Linked DNA regions of Homo sapiens. The protein of the gene in region 1 purifies or fractionates together with the protein of each later gene. This does not show direct contact. Each region holds a gene or a part of one and is shown on either strand. Other genes may lie near its edges.

What was found. Proteins that work in one complex are often made in the same cells at the same time.
Region 2: the proteins of EIF4E3 (region 1) and TBC1D4 purify together in Homo sapiens (affinity purification with mass spectrometry; 3 studies listed by BioGRID and IntAct, with this or other methods). This does not show direct contact.

What each region holds. Positions count from the first base shown.
Region 1 is NC_000003.12:71,720,946-71,730,845, reverse strand, and holds the start of EIF4E3 (eukaryotic translation initiation factor 4E type 3), read left to right. Parts: upstream 1-5,443; 5' UTR 5,444-5,478; coding exon 5,479-5,654; intron 5,655-5,662; exon of another isoform or gene 5,663-5,971; intron 5,972-9,900. UniProt on the Homo sapiens protein: Recognizes and binds the 7-methylguanosine-containing mRNA cap during an early step in the initiation of protein synthesis. May act as an inhibitor of EIF4E1 activity.
Region 2 is NC_000013.11:75,360,170-75,367,169, reverse strand, and holds part of TBC1D4 (TBC1 domain family member 4), read left to right. Parts: intron 1-4,562; coding exon 4,563-5,144; intron 5,145-7,000.

The DNA.
Region 1 (9,900 bases):
AGATGGGAGGATTGCTTGAGCCTGGGAGGCCGAGGCTGCATGAGCCAAGATTGTGCCACTCCACTCCAGCCTGGGCAACAGAGCAAGACTCTGTCTCAAAAAAAACAACAACAATAATAATAGAGAAAAAGAAAAAAAGAAGGAAGACCAACACACGGATTGCAGGCAGATCAGGACGAGAACTCAATGTCTGATAGGTGGATGGATGTGGAGAGTGGGACAACCAAACCTCAAGGCCACATTTTCCAGGCTCAATGACCACATGGACCTCAGTGTCCTCACTGCAGATGCTTAACACATGCCATTTCCTTTGCCCCTTTCTCTTCCATTAGCAGCTCTGAACAAGAGAGGCCTGGCCTGGCCCCTAAAAGATCTTCAGAGGTCTTTTGGAATCTAGATAAATAACACTAGTTGAGCTTTTTCTATGTGCAACTTGCAAGGTGCTTTATAGACAATGTTTTCTTATACATGGCTCAGAGCAGTCCCTTGAGAGTGCTCTTGTTATCTGTACCCTAGATGAGGAATCTGGAGCTCAGCAAGGTTAATAACTTCCCAGAGTCACAGGGTTTACCTATGGCAGGATCTTGGTTAGAGCAGGGATCAGTCTCACTCTGAAGCAATCACTCTTGAACCACACCGCAGCCTCCCCTGACCCGTGAGTATCCCAGAATAGTGTCAAGTCTCCCCTACCTTTCCAAGCCATTGCTCTAGGACTGACCAGCTGCAACACACCTTTGCTGGAAGCTTCAGTGAGGGCCTCTGCCCCAGGCCAGTCCCTTCCTGTGCCCTGTACCTACCGGCACTGAAGACTGCCATCTAGTGGCCATTGCCTTCCTTTTTCTTTTGCTGTTAAAGGAAAACGGAGTTCCCACATAAAAGACAGGCCTGCATATTTATAGTATCACACCCTGTAAACAGGAAACTTCTCAGTGTTAGAGAAGGAGCCCAGCAACATAAACAGCATATTGCCAATGAGTTCCGCCACCCATTCAACAAACACTTAAATACACACACACACACACACACACACACACACACACACACACATTCTATTGGAATGTAGGCTCCCAGAGAGAGGAATTTCTTTTGTCTGTATTGCTAATGAACCTGGAGAGCTTAGAACAGTGGCATTTGCATAGCAGATATGCAACAAATATTTATTGAGTGTGGAATGAATGAACGCCTGACATTTACTGTATCTTTACTATATACCAGGGACTTGACATATACATTTTCTCATTTAATCCTAACGATAACTCGAGAGATAGAGACCATTAGCATGTCCAGTCCTCATATGTGGAGACTGAGGCACAGAGAGGGTAGGAAGCTTGCCAGGTTTAGGGAGAACTAGCTTTGACCCAGGTTTTCTGACATTAGAGACCATGTGTTCCCTCCTTTCAAGGGAGCCACTGGCCAATTCCCTCCCATGTTCTGCCTTTATTGAGTGGAAGGCTCCCTTCCCAAAGTGTTGAGACAGAGGCCATCAATGGAGGGAATGTCACTAGCTAACTCTGTGGCTGTGTGACTTCCAGTGTCCCTGAACCTCAGGTTCCTCATTGGGTAAAGGAGGAGACTGAGTTAGGACCCCTGCCTTCCCTTCCAACGTCATCATTCTGCTGTTCCTGTGACTCCCAGGGAGCAGATGTGAGTAGAAGAGAGAGGACCACTTGTTGCTAGGCAACCAGCACCCACCTCACCCATGTTGCCATGGTGATGATGAAAGTTGGGCTGATGGGATTACCAGCTCCTGCTAATTGCATATGAGTGCTCAGGTTTCTGTCTCTTTCTTGCCTGCTTGCTCGCTCTGACTTTCTCATTCTTCTAGGAACTGTAGAGCGATTTCCCCCTCTCCTCCATCTGCAGCCTCCCTGAGGCAGCCCTAGTGCAATGGAAAGCAACTGGGAATGGAGCCTGGCTGTGTGTCTGAATAGCTGTGTGACCTTGGGCAGGTTACCCAGCTTCTCTGGGCCTTTCTTTTCTCATTTGGAAAATGAAGGTGTTGGAAAAGTGATCCCTGTCTAAGGTTCTTCCCGGCTCTCAAATCCTTTGATGCCTAGGGAGCTTGTCAGGGGAGCAGACCACACTGTTACTAGGCAACCAGCAGGCACCCTGCCCAAGTTGCCTTGGTGACTGGATGCTGGAGGGGAGGGGAGTAGCTGCTGCAGCTAATTGCTTAATTATTTATGAGTGCCTCAAGTCCTTCTTGTTGTTTTTGTTGCTAGGGGCTGTGGGGTCACCTTCTCTTCCTCTCTTCTGCCACCCCAAGTCGTCTGTGTTGCGTGTCATGCAGTGGGACAGCACGTTGGTCCGGACCTCAAGCTACCCACGTTCTAGTCCCGCCTCTGTCATTTCCTAGAGCTGTGGCCTCGGGTAAGTCACCTCACCTCTCTGGGCCTCAGTTTCCTCATTTGTAAAGTGATGGGTTTGCTTAGATGATCGCTGAATCCCCTTTCTACCTTGAAATTCTAGTTCCTGCCATCCAGTTCCCAGATGAGGGAAATTTCCCCAATTTATTATCTTCTAAGAATGATTCTGAAGAGCAATAAAAATAATTAAGTCTCTTACATATTTCAAACAGGAAGGGAATGAAAGTTGTGACCATTGTTCCCTCCTTAGCCATTTTGTATAATCTCTTTTATTAATCTTAAGGTCATTTAAATTTTATCTATTCATATATACCACCTACTTCCAAAATAAATTTGAGGGGTTCAGTGTAAGGTGCATATATGCTATTAGGTCTTTAAAATAGAAATAGGAATAAATATAAAAATAGTGATGCTTCTTCATTGGCTAATATTGGTGCTGTGATTGAGCACCAAATGTAATTATGAGCAGCCTGGAAGCCAAAGCAAAAAGAGAGAAAGGTATATAATTGCTATTCAGTAAAGAAAAACTGCCAGACTGTTCCTAGTTCTAAATTCTGGAGGGAATTTTTTCATGTGGTACACAATCCTTTTACAGAAACTGCAGATAAAAATTCTTGACTAGCCCTTTTTTGCTGAGGATATTGTTAAAGGACATAAGGAAGGAGCTAAACTTGACAGTTTGACTAGCTTTAATCATTAGAAAGCAAAACTTCCTTTCTACCCATGCCTTGGAATTTTATACAGATATGTGTCACTTCGTAAATATAAATTTTCAGAATCAACCATTATTTATATATCAGCTATATATAAATTCATGTAACCACTTTGCAAAGCAATTTGGCAATATGTATCAAATTTTTAAATGCAGCCAACAATTCTTCTCCAAACTTATTCTGAGATTAGCTTGTGTAGATGAAGAAAGCCATAAATATAAAAATACTTATGGTAGCATTATTTATATAAGAAAATGTCTAGAAACCACATAAATGTTGGAGGCTAGTGAATTAAATTATATTACCTCTTTACAATGAATTACTTTGCAGCCCTTAAGATAAAGTAGATCTATATGTTTTGATATGGAAAAATCTTCAAGGATATAATGTTAAGTGAAATAAGAAGGTACAGCATTGGTATTAAATGCTTCCATTTTGGTTATAAAAAAGATATAGATTTATAACTTATGAATCTAGATATATGCTTGCATGTGCATACTTGCATTTTTCTGGAAGGAAACTGTTGCCAGTGGTTTCCTCTGGGAATGAAGATTGATAGTCTTGGGAGGGAGGGAGACCTACTATTCACAGCTTGTTTTTACGTTGTGGACTTGTTAGTGTTCTGTGTAGAGAGGTAGGAGAGTCTGGCAGTTGAAAGTCTAGACTCTGGAGTCTGAATACCTATGTTCAAATCCCAGCTGTCCCACTTACTAGCTCTGTGACCTTGGGGTTATCTTAATCTTATCTCTGTTCCTCATCTGTAAAATGGGTTAATAGTATCTTCCTCATTGGCTTATTGTAAGGATTAAATGAGTTATTACGGGTAAAGTGCTCAGAGCAGTTTAAACAATGCCATATACCACGCTTCTTGGAAAAATGAAAGGAGATATTAAGCAACAAGATAAATGCATCTAACCAAAAGCACCCTCCCCTGTTTTAGTGTTGGACAGATTTTATAAAATCTGTCATTGCTTCCAGCATTGTATGTTGTATAGAAGTTAAGTTTAAAGCAGCGGTCTTGTTTTTATTATTGTCACTTTATGTGACCTTGATTACCTTTTAGGGAGGGCATCTACTCTGGGATTCATGACAGTCTGCTATGATGCTGTTGATGCCCCTGAACTCATCTTGTTTTGTAGCTCTTCCATCCCAGCGAATGCTCAAGGCATGAACAGAACACATGCTAGGCCAGGTAGAAGGTCAATGAGGAGATGGCATCCCACGCCCTTCACTGTTCAAAGCCAGAGAGGAACTATCTAGAAATTCAAGTGTAAAGAGGATGTCCATGCTGGTTGTGACATGTGTGTTCACAGGCCTCATGCCTTTGCTTTTCTTTTGAAAAAGAAAGTGACAGAGACCTGGGGAGATGCTGTGTTAGGAGGGCCCCTCCTACTTTGGGCTCAGGAATCTCACCGCCTAAGGGACTTCCTGGGTGCTCAGAGGTACAGGAAGCAGAGCGCTCTGTGTTCACAGGTGCCCGCTTTCCTCCTCCCGACTCGCCGGTGCTTTAGGGCAGATCTGGATACTTTGGCTGATTTTGGGAAATGTTCTCTGAAGTTAGCCACACGTTAAGCCAGGCTTGAGGCCTTCACTGTGGTCACATGGTAGCTCCAGAGGTTGGGATGGGGGCTCTGGCCCCTTCAAATCAGCGGAGTTAGGAAGTATGCTCTCACCAAGAGGAATGCAAAGCCCACCTGCTCCAACCTCATGCCCCAGTCGGTGGTTCTCTTGTTCGTTCTTCTTTCTCGCCCTTTGTTCTGTACTCGCGGGCACTGGAGTCTCTTTATCCATTTGGCCATCGGTTCCCCTCTCCATTTATCTGTCACACCCAACTGTGCTTCCATCTGCCCTCCATCCCTCCTTCTCTCCTCCAGCCATCTGCCAGCCTTCACTCCATCCTTCTGACTGCTGGTATGTCTGTCCATCCCTCCTTCCCTCGCACCACGTGGGTCTGGGGCTCCATCCCCTGTCCCATCCATCCCTCCATCTGTCCCTAGCCTGCCGCTCCATCCCGCTGCCCTTTTGCATGGCTGCAGAGCCAGCCCGCAGACCGTTCCCCGGTCCCTCTCACCCCCGTGGGCCCTCTAGCCCGTCCCCGGCCGCCACTCCAGGCCAGGCCGTCAGTCTCCCACGCTGGGCCCGCGCCTGAGCGGGATCGGCCCCCCATCCCTCCGTGGGTCTGTCTTTGTTCGGCGGCCCCGGCCCGGCCGTGCCTCCCACGGCCCCTCCGCGCGGCTCCCAGGCCCTGAAGGCGGCGGGCGGCGGGCGGCGGGCGGCGGGCGGCTAGCCCGGGGCGGGGCGGGGCGCGCGGGGCGGGGCGGGGCGGGGGCCGGGGGTGACTCAGCCGCGCTCGCCCCGCGGTCCGCGCGTCCGCCGGCCTTGCAGGCGGGGCGGAGAAAATGGCGCTGCCCCCGGCCGCCGCGCCCCCCGCCGGGGCCCGGGAGCCGCCGGGGTCCCGCGCCGCCGCCGCTGCCGCCGCCCCCGAGCCGCCGCTCGGCCTGCAGCAGCTGTCGGCGCTGCAGCCTGAGCCGGGCGGGGTCCCGCTGCACTCGTCCTGGACCTTCTGGCTCGACAGGTGAGGGGGCGCGGGGCCCGCCGCGCACGGCCCCGACCCGGGTCCTGCCGCCACCGCCGCTTTGTCTCGGCGCGGCCCCTCGCCCCGGCCCCGCTCCGCTGTGGCACAGACCTCGGCCCCTCCGCGCGTCCGCCTGCGCACCCCGGGACTCGCCCCGCCGGGTCGGAAGCCAGCTTCGGGCCGCGCCGGGCGGCTGTTCGGCGTCCTCGCCTCCGGGCCGGGGGAGGACAGCGCAGCCCGAAAAGTTTCGGCAACACTTTCTACCCCTTGTTCCCTTCCGATCGGAACGCGGCGTGCTGGCAGGGCCGTGGGAGAGGGTAGGCGAGCTGGGGGTGGCCGCGTCCCTGCTGCAGGGAGAGGGCTGTCCTGCTTACCCCGCGGGGCGCCTGGGAGCTCAGGACACGACCTCAGCTGTGACAGCGCTCGGAAAAGTTGCCCATCCCTTGGGAGGTGTGCGGTGGTGCAATGATTATTGCACGGCGGGCGCTCCCACCCCGTGTCCGGCCGCTGCTGCCGTGGACTCCTCTTCCAGTTCTTCCTCATCCACTGGGCAGGTATTTCCTGAACACCTACAGTGGAGCCACACACCTGCTATGCGCTGGAGATTCAATAATGAGCAGCAGCTGACCTTGTCAGGAAGGGGGTGAATTATGGCTTTCTCAAGGGACAACCCAGGTGCCATCTTTTCAGAAAGACCCCCTGACTACCGTATCTAAAATAGAAACCTTGCTCCCTCGTTTTGTATTCTCCTGCCCTGCCTTCTTTTTCTTCCTAATGCTTAATGCAGCTGGATTTTATTATATATGAATTTGTTTACTTTCAGTCTGTCTCCCCAGCTCCTCAACACCTCCCCTCAGTTAAGGATAAAAGAGCAGTGGATTTTTGTTTTTGGACATTTTGGACCTAGAACTGTGCCTGGTCCCTAGTAAGAACACCAGAAATTGTTATGAATGAATAGATGGATGAATGCAAAGCCCCTTCTTAGTGTCTGCCCTGCAGTGGGTGCCCAATGATGACACCTCAAGGTTGTCCCAAGAGCATTTGGAAATTTTGATGAAACCGTGTCTATTCTGGCTAAGTGTTAGGAAGAAATGTGTGACAGTGTTCTGAGAAGTTTGCTTGGTACACACAAATCTGGTTTTAAAAGGCTTTGCATAAAATGACTGCAAGATTTTGTTTTAAAAAAGTGATATTCATTTTTTTTTTGGTTAAGACAAGCTCATTTCTTTTTTCCTTTTGGGTTCTTATAGCACCCGTCTATAAGAATTGTCACTTGCTGCCATTTTCTTTGCCGGAGACCCAAAAAAGTTGGGGGTGGGGGAGATGGAGTGAGTTTCGTTCTTTCAAAACATTTTCACTTTCATTATGGGATGCTAAGAGAGCATTATACTGTCATAACAAGCGTGCTTTTGGCAGACCTTAGCAGAATGAAATCGTGTCTGTTTTCATAGGTGTGCTGCAACTGTGCTATTGTTACCTGGTATCTGTTTTCAAGGTGTTAAACCTGGACCTGTGGTCTAAATTGTGAATACTGCTGACTGGTGGAAACAGTATCAAGAGAGTTTCTTTTTAAACAGGTCTAAAATTAGTTTACATGTAGGAACAACACTTTTAAGGACTGGTCTAAAATGTCAATACTACAGATAACACAATCTTTTAAGACTAGTAGCTTAAGATTATAGTAACTTTAATGAAGACAAAAACTATATCTATACTATTGATTTACACATTTTTGTTCTCTAAAGGTCGATCATCAAATGAAATACATTATTGCCACAGTGTCCAGATCTTTAATAGAAATGGCTGTATTAATTTAGAAATTATAATGAGTTCCAATATTGTACATATGAATTCATTTTGCCCGATCAAACAACTCATAATTTTTATTGAACTTTTTCTCCTTCTGTGGGAATCCATTACCTTTATATAGGGTGCCCCTCTCCCCCTTGAGGTTATGAACACATTATGATCTAGAAGTTCATTAGTAACTTTTCTCCCCAGGTAAACAACATTCTAGAGACTGGTGAGGTTCTCAGGAGAGCCCTCCAAGGCAGCCTTACCTGCAGCATAGCCAATGTCTGCCTGGCAAGATGACATCGGTTTTTGAGTTCCATAGCATGCAAAGGCCTCTTGCTACTTAAAACTCCCCTTTGGCATCCTACCTCCCGGCCTGTCCTACTTTCCAGCCTACTGTGTGCTGATGAGCAAGCCATCTAGCTGCCCCAAGCCTCACTTTCATTGTAAAATGGGATAGTCATAGGCTATGTCTCACAGGGCAGTTCTGAGGATTAAATGAGAGACATGATGTACAACACCTAACAGGTGCCAGCTGGTAGAAGGAGCTTCCTAAGCATAAACTACTAACACTGTCATTACCATGCTCCCCAGCTACCAACCCCTCCCCATACCCACACCCCAACAAACAGTCTCTGGAGCAGCTTGTCTGAATTCTGTGTTGGGAAGCCAGAAACCTAAATTCATTCCCCTCACTGGATGAGTTGGAGAACTCCTCTGTAAAGTTATTAGTATTTTTAATAGTCAACTCCAATAAGTCCTTATTTGGTTAAAAAATTAGACTGTATGGTTAAGGATTTCGGCATTTGAGGAAGGTAATTTTAGATTGGGGGTACAGGCTGAAGAGTTTTTCTCCCCTTTTCTGGACATTTAAAACTATCCTGTCTTGATTCTTGGAAGCCACTCTGGGTTATGTGTCTCTAACTGCTTCCTTTTGATCTTATGGTGACCCGCTCGCCTCTGAGTTTTTTCCCACAAGACTCAGGCCTCAGGCCTCTTCTTTGTGCCATTTACACCAGGGATCTCATCCAGTCACAGTGCTTTCAGGTCCACCTGAATTCTGGTGACTCTCAAAACCTTACACTCTTAGATCCAGTGCTCCTTCCCCTTTGTCTCCATGGATGTCCAATGTAATACACAACCAGACTCAACATATACTGAACTACCTCCTCAACTGCCTTCCCAAACTTGTTTCCTTCTATCTGTATCTCAGATAAGAGCAGTTAAGAGCAAGTCTATCCTTCCAGTTGCCCAGCCCAGAAATCTTAGAGTCATCTGTAACCACCTCCCACCCCCGCCCCCCCGAGGAAAAGCCAAAGGGCTTACAGGAACCATAAAGCTTTGCAGCTCTTCCTGCCCCACCCAGGACCCTTTTCTCCCTTGTCACTCTCCCTTCTGCCATGCCCTTCTTTCTGCTCATCGGTCCCCTTGCTCTTTCGCCTTCATCCCAAGCAGGGACCTTAGCCACTGACACCCCCTACTGCTTGGAGTGCTCTCACCTCCATCAGTGCTTGCCCTGCTCTTTCCTGTCCTTCAAGCCTCTGCTCACATGTCACCTTCTCAGACCTTCCATATTAGTCTGTTCTCACACTGCTACGAAGAATTACCCAAGACTGGGTAACTTATAAAGGAAAGAGGTTTGACTCACAGTTCCACGTTGCTGTGGAGGCCTCAGGAAACTTACAATCATGGTAGAAGCCAAAGGAGAAGCAGGCACCTTCTTCACAGGGCAGCAGTACCAAGTGAGTGCAAGCAGGGTAAATGCCAGACACTTATAAAATCATCAGATCTCATGAGACTCACTCACTATTACGAAAACAGCATGGGGGAAGCCACCCCCATGATCCGGTTACCTTCACCTGGTCCTGCCCTTGACATATATGGGGATTATGGAGATCACAATTCAAGATGAGATTTTGGGTGGAGACACAGCCAAACCATCTTATGTTGCCTGACCACTGTTATGAAATGGCGCAAGCATCCTGACACACACACCCCGAGCCCCTGACCCTGTTTTATTTTCTCCATAGCATTACCACCATTGGCTTGTCTTCTCCCACTAGGATGTAAACCTCATGAGGGCAGAGTTCTCGTCCCGGATGCCTTGTCCTTAGCTCCTGGATTGGAGCCTAGCACAAGTCAGTCCGCACTGAATACCCTGAACAGGGTGTTGTTGAATTCTACCCGCAGTGACTTCACCTTCTCCTGTGGTGGCTCCATTACTCTGCTAATCATTTGCAAGTCTCCATCTCCAGCCTTCAGCTCTCTTCGGAGTTCTGGACACATGTCTGAAAGCTAAGGAAATCCACAGGCACTTTAAATGCAGTACTGATTCTTCAGTGACTGAGCTCATTTCTCTCTATTCTCTTTCTTTTCTGCTGACCACGTGTTGGTTAACCATCCTGCCATACTTCCAGTTTTTCAGAATTGGAATTTCCATTTGATCCTTGAA
Region 2 (7,000 bases), on another chromosome or scaffold:
TTAGTCCCAAACAATCTGTGTATTTCCTGATTGCAGAGTCAGGAAATACTTAACTTTTGAAGCAATAATGGTTACTCCTGGGAAGTTTTATAATTGGCTGCATAGTGATAACGTGGACTTTAATAAATACAATGAAAATACCGCCAGCTTATTTAGAAAGAGAGAACTTAGAGCTAATACTGAGGACTACACCAGTTTGGCAAAATCATTGCTCTTCGTGACCACCTCCAGTTTCCAGCTGGCTTCCTGATCAAAGGTATCTTTCCTTAGTGCTTTTTCACTCTCCAGATTTTCTCCTGTGTTTGTTCAGGTCTTTGAACATCAGTGTTTGGTAGTTGTAGAATTTGTTTTATTTTGAAATCAGGTAAAATGTAGTTTATAAAATGTTAATGGGTTTTTTGAAGTATGTTAAGTAACTATGATAACCAATTAATGAGAAAGAACAGCATGACATCAAGGAATCTAGAAGCAATATTTTTTTTTTTTTGTCTAGAGTGAGGAATTGCTTTAATGTCTGAGTCTTGGTACTTGATTCTAAATTGTTTTAGTGAGGTCACTGAAGGTGTAACAACAAAATACTAGCTAAAGGTGGCACTGTGCTTTTTCTAAATATAATGAGACCCTTATTTCTGTTGAATTGATTCCTGTGTGTTAATGGAAATGGATCATTTTAACAACTTGCACACTACTTCAGGTTTAATCATAAAGGTGATTTTTCCCTCTCTTGATTGTACATTATCCTGCCTTTATATTGGCATTAATCCAAAAATTAACTCACAGAATGTGGATCTCGATGAGACCTTATCAACCATCTATCAAGTTCCCCCATTCACTTTGCTCTTGAGGAAGTTATCTGGCAGAGGTGCAACAACTATTCCCAGAGGTCTTGAGCAAAATATTGGGGATAGAATATAAACCTGTCAGTCCCTAGTTTGGTTGAGCCTCTTTCAGTATCATTGTTTTGTGTTAATAGATTAAATGCTGCCACTGAGTAGAAATCTTGCCTTAAATTGGTGTGTGTAAATCGTCATTAGGCTCTGTGGGTTGTAGGCAGATTCTGAGCAGCGGAATTATTTGTAGCTACAATATGTAGCTAGGGTGTGTAGCTTGAGGTGCTCTATAACATTTAGAGTCATTCTGGAAACATACCGTCACTTCCTAGTTTGGGTGAATGGTGAGCAGAGTGAGAAGCCACTGCTTTCTATTTTTGGGTGTGACAGATCTCTTGAGTCACCAACGGGAATTTACTAAACTGTCTCAGTCCTGAAGAATTTATATCAGAGTTCTAGGTAGTTTTTCACTCCTATATATATGACTCTGTTTGCTGTCAGCATTCATTCAAGTTCTTCTGAGCCCAGACCATTTTCCTAGTGGCCACAGGGAGGAATTCTAGTAAGCAACAAAATCCCCCCAACTCAGTCTTTCACTTAAGAGCTTATGGTACGATGGTACAGGAGAAAGAGATATTGAAAAGATACAACACATATAAGAAGGATTCAAATTCGTTCAACAATATTTGTAAATGTATGTATAAATATATGTCAGTTAACACTATGCTACAGGAGAATCCTATGATTCCAAAATATTGTATGTATGTACAAGTACTTGATAGAAATTTTATTTCTCTTGCATTGTTTCTGATGAATCCCTTAAGTAAATGCTTCAATACAAGATTTTCATGATTCTCTGATCACTCATTTCCCCGCTATGGATATTTTACTGTGCTTATATGAGCAGTGTGCCCCTTCTGGTGTGGCCTAAGTGAGTAGTCAGGGGCTGTATAATGCTAGTGTTTATACTCTGTGTTTCACATGAGGATAAGCAAAAAAAAAAAAAACAGAGCTGTTGTTAGATTAGTTTTGCAGAGTCTCTGCAACCCATGTCATTCAAGTTGTGGTTAGTCATAACCTGAGAAAAGGTAGTAAAGGTAACTAGAACCAGTTTTGTGTTGTAATATTAGCATCTTAAATTATTAAAGATTAAATTATGTACTCAGTTTAGAATTCAAGATGATAAACTTTGCTTATATAAATTGGATCACTTACAGAATTACATTTAGGTGTTGAGTTTTTACCTGTAGTCACAGGGAAGGATCCTGGGAGACTACAGAAATTCAGCCACAAATCAGTTTTTCATGTAAAAACTCTTGATATGGCGGTAGAGAAATTCAAAAGACTTGACACAATTAAGGTTGAATTGACTTTATGTGCAATCTCAATTGTAGAATGGAACTCTGAGGTTGTATGTAAATCATTTAAATATTTGTAACAAGATAAAATATCTGCAGTAAAATCAGTGCTACAGGCTATATTTCTGATTCCGTACTCTGTAGAGACACTTTTGGAGGCATACTTGGGTTAAAAATTAGATGAAAAGTATTTAGTGGAAATCAGACAAAAAGATTTTGGGTTAAAAATCAGATTAAAAATATTTAGTAATCAGATGAAAAGTAGAGAGAAAGAAGAGATCATTCTCCTAGGGCTTTGCCCACTAGAATCATTTTATTTTTTGCAGGTTTGCACGGTTGAGTGTCAGCTAGCTCACTCTCCATAGCTTTGGCCCTTGCCAGGTAAGGTAAATCACATACTAAGGCAGTAAGAAAATGATGAAGGGTTGAGGTTGCTAGTCACATGTTAGCACAGATACCTGACTTTGTCCCTGAGACATGGCAAGTGTTCAGGGTGAGTCACTGAAGCTATAGCATGTGGATTTTATCCTTTCATAGGAAATACTTGGTCTAGCAAGCGGAAATTCTTGTTATTTGTAAACTATGAATGTTCTAGCAGTATATCCCAAATAATTACAACAGCCCCTCCTTATCCACAGTTTCAGTCACCTGTGGTCATCTGTGGTCCGAAAATATTAAATGGATGTGGCAATAAACTGTTAACATCTCTGAACTCAGAGACCTTGTGGGAGGAATGTGCCTTGTATGTTGGAGAAATAGCAAGGAGGCCATTGTGGCTGGAGCTGAGTAGAAGGGAATTTAGTAGGAGATAAACTCTAGGAACCAATTGCCAATCAGGAAATCTTTGAATCCACCTACGATCTGGAACTGCACCGCCCCCACCATGCACACTCCCCACCCTGCCCCTTTGAGTTCTCCCACCTTTGTGGATCGAACCAATGTACATCTTACATATACTGATTGATGTCTCATGTCTCCCTAACATGTAGAAAACCAAGCTGTAGCCCAACCACCTTGGGCACATGTTCTCAGAACCTCCTGAGGCTGTGTCATGGTCATGCCCTTAACCTTGGCAAAATAAACTTTTAAACTGATTGAGACCTGTCTCAGATACTTTTTGGTTTATAGAATGTACCACATTTTATTTATCTCTTCACTTGCTGATGGACGTTTGGATTGTTCTCAGTTTTAGAGTTGTGAACCAGAAAATCTGAGACAGGTCTCAGTTAATTTAGAAAGTGTATTTTGCCAAGGTTGAGGATGCGCACCTGTGACACAGCCCCAGGAAGTCCTGATGACATGTCCCCAGGGTGGTTAGGGCACAGCTTGGTTTTATACACTTCAGGCAGACATGAGACATCAGTCAATATATGTAAGAAGTACCTTGGATCCGTCTGGAAAGGCGGGACAATTTGAAGCAAAGGCAGGAAGACTCAAAGCAGGGAGGGAGTTTTTAGGTCATAAACAGGTGCTATGGTTACATTCTTTTGAGTTTCTGATTAACCTTTCCAAAGGAGGCAATCAGATATGCATCTATCTCAGTGAGCAGAGGGGTGACTTTGAATAGATAGGAGGTAGGTTTGCCCTAAGCAATTTTCAGCTTGAGTTTTCCTTAGTGATTTTGGGGGCCTAAGATATTTTCCTTTCACAGGGTATTGGGACAAAAGTGCCTTTGAATATTTGTTTGTAGGCTCTTGTGTGGACATGTTTTCCAGTCTTTTAATTTTTAGGAGTGGAATGCCTAGGTAATGAAGTAGGTCTATATTTAACTCCTAAGAAACTGCCAAACCATCCTCTAGAGTGGTGTGTCATTTTATATGTCTGTGTACAATGTATGAGAGTTCAGTTGCTCCCATGTCCTTGCTGGCAGTCTTCTTTTTATCTTAGCCATTCTAAGAGGTATATAGTGGTATCTTATTGTGGTTTTAATTTGCATTTTCTCTGATAGTTAATGCTGATGAGGGATGTCTAGGTTTTAATCTCCTCATCAAAAAAGGTTATTTTGTCCTCATGGTTGGAACTTTGGTTCCTTTCAGCTGAGGCACAAATAACTTTTAAACACAATCAAAAGACATATTATGACATAATAGGTTGGCAGTGGCTTATATAGTTTCATGGTTTTGTTTCTGGGAGACTCATTTAAAGTGGGAAAATATAATCCTGCTATTCAATTTCAATTTTCATTACATTTTAATTTTATCTTGAAGTCATTTATGTCAAATAATGTAAGTGTATGCTCTGTCTCGTGTAGTGTCTATTACTTTGTATATTATTTAGGATGAAAATACATTCCATGTGGTAATAATTGGGCTAGGTAAATGTAAATTGTCTCAAAACTTTCAACTAGAATCAGGGTTTTAATTTTTTCCCCCAGGTTCCTGATGTTATTAGCAGCATAAGGCAATTATCTAAAGCGGCCATGAAAGAGGATGCCAAACCCAGCAAAGATAATGAGGACGCCTTTTACAACTCTCAGAAGTTCGAAGTCCTGTACTGTGGAAAGGTGACCGTGACCCACAAGAAGGCCCCCTCAAGCCTCATCGATGACTGCATGGAGAAGTTCAGCCTGCACGAACAGCAGCGCCTGAAGATCCAAGGGGAGCAGCGCGGTCCGGACCCAGGAGAGGACCTGGCTGACTTGGAGGTGGTGGTGCCCGGGTCCCCCGGAGACTGCCTGCCGGAGGAGGCTGACGGCACCGACACCCACCTTGGCTTACCTGCCGGGGCCAGCCAGCCTGCCCTGACCAGCTCTCGGGTCTGCTTCCCTGAGCGGATTTTGGAAGATTCTGGCTTTGATGAGCAGCAGGAGTTTCGGTCTCGGTGCAGCAGTGTCACCGGCGTGCAACGGAGAGTTCACGAGGGCAGCCAGAAATCCCAGCCGCGACGGAGACACGCGAGCGCACCCAGTCACGTCCAGCCCTCGGACTCGGAGAAGAACAGGACCATGCTCTTCCAGGTACACCTGATCGGACGCTGTCTGCCCTTGCCCCAAAAGGTGCCAGATGGAAGTAGCTGGGCATCCAGTTCCTCCCAGCTCCACCTCTATATAACGAATAATCTAACTTTTATTTGTTTTCCCCTTCAAAGCAGATAAGGCAGGTGGAGGAAGAGTGCAGAGGAAAGTAGGGAAGGGGGGAGAGGCAGACGTGGAGTGTGGAGTATAAGAATTAAGGGAGTAGGGAAGGAAGAGGAGGAGGAAGCAATTCGTAGAACGTCCTGGACACCTGGTAGAGAGAATAAGAATCTATAACCAGCATTTGCCTTGGGGTGATTCTCAAATAAATGCTTAAAAAAAAATTGTAGGCCCGGCGCGGGGGCTCACGCCTGTAATTCCGGCACCTTGGGAGGCCAAGGTACGCGGATTACTTGAGGTCAGGAGTTCCAGATCAGCCTGGCCAACATGGCAAAACCCCGTCTCTATTAAAAAACAAAAATTAGCCGGATGTGGTGGGGGCGTGCCTGTAATCCCAGCTAATCAGGTGCTGAGGCGGGAGAATTGCTTGAACTGGGGAGTCGGAGGTTGTAGTGAGCTGAGATTGACCCCCTGCACTCGAGCCTGGGCGACAGAGCGAGACTCCATCTCAACAACAACAAAAAAATTGTAGAAAGTAAATCTTTAAAGATATGAATCTGAGAGAGTGCGATTTGGCATGGAGAAACAAGGGACTTTTTTTCTAGAGAAGAAAAAACTCCAGAGACTTGTATTTGTATTTTGAGTCGAGGACACACCAATTTATGCTGTCACACCAAAAGACGTTAAAGAAACATCATTGGCCTAAAAATGTACTGAATTGGATACTAAAATAATTTGATGCAAGCTGTAGTATTGGTATAAAAGATCATTCTTAATTCTAAACATTTTTGAATGTTGTACAGGGTATAGAAGGTGTCAGGTTCCGCTTAAAATAACTTAATTCCTAACAATACTCTGTAGAGAGTCTTTAATTCTCAGCTTGTGAGATTTGAGTTTCCTTGGGGGGAAAGAAAAGAGTGACTGTCTTTTTTAAACCTATTTTAAAGATTTCCTAAGAAGGAGATTCCGGAGTATTTTGGTAAATAGTACCGGTGTGTAATATCAGAAGTTTGCTTTATCGGAAGTTCATGAGGCTTTTTTTCACAAATGATAATATTTTATTATAGAAAAAGCATCCCAAATGCAGGATTTCATAAACACTCGTAGGTGAACAAGTACAGCTTCAAAAGTAAATTCAGAGTAAAGAGGCAACACTTACAAACATTTTGCCTTAAGGAGAAAATGTGATGTTCTCCTGCAGAAGTAATCCCACACAGAACACAAATGTGGCTCCATATCATGAAGGCATCAGATTTGCTTTCTGAGCTCAGTATGCCCATTTCAACAATTGAAAATGATGGCAAGAAGTAGCATTGAATATATTACTACTTGATTAAAAAAAAACACACCCCTGATTAAAAAAAAAAAATTAAGAGACAGGGTCTCGCTCTGTCATCCAGGCTGGAGTGCAGCAGTGTGATCACAGCTCACTACAGCCTTGACCCCTGGAAGTTCATATTTTTTCTTTTTTGTTGGTGGTGGTTTTGTTTTTAATGAACTCAAGGTATGTCATTAAAGCCTCTCTAGTCTTTGGTGATGTATTAACTGAATTTCCCCTTTTCTTGGGGTTATCAGATTTGTTCTTTTTTTAGTTAGTCACAGTCCTTGTTGTTAATTTTTCTGAATGGGTTATTTTCAAAGATTTTAATTCATTAGCCCAATTACAGATACATCCTTTTGCTGACCATTTAGAAGAAAGTATGATTATAACTTATTTTTTAAAATTACTATTTTTAGAA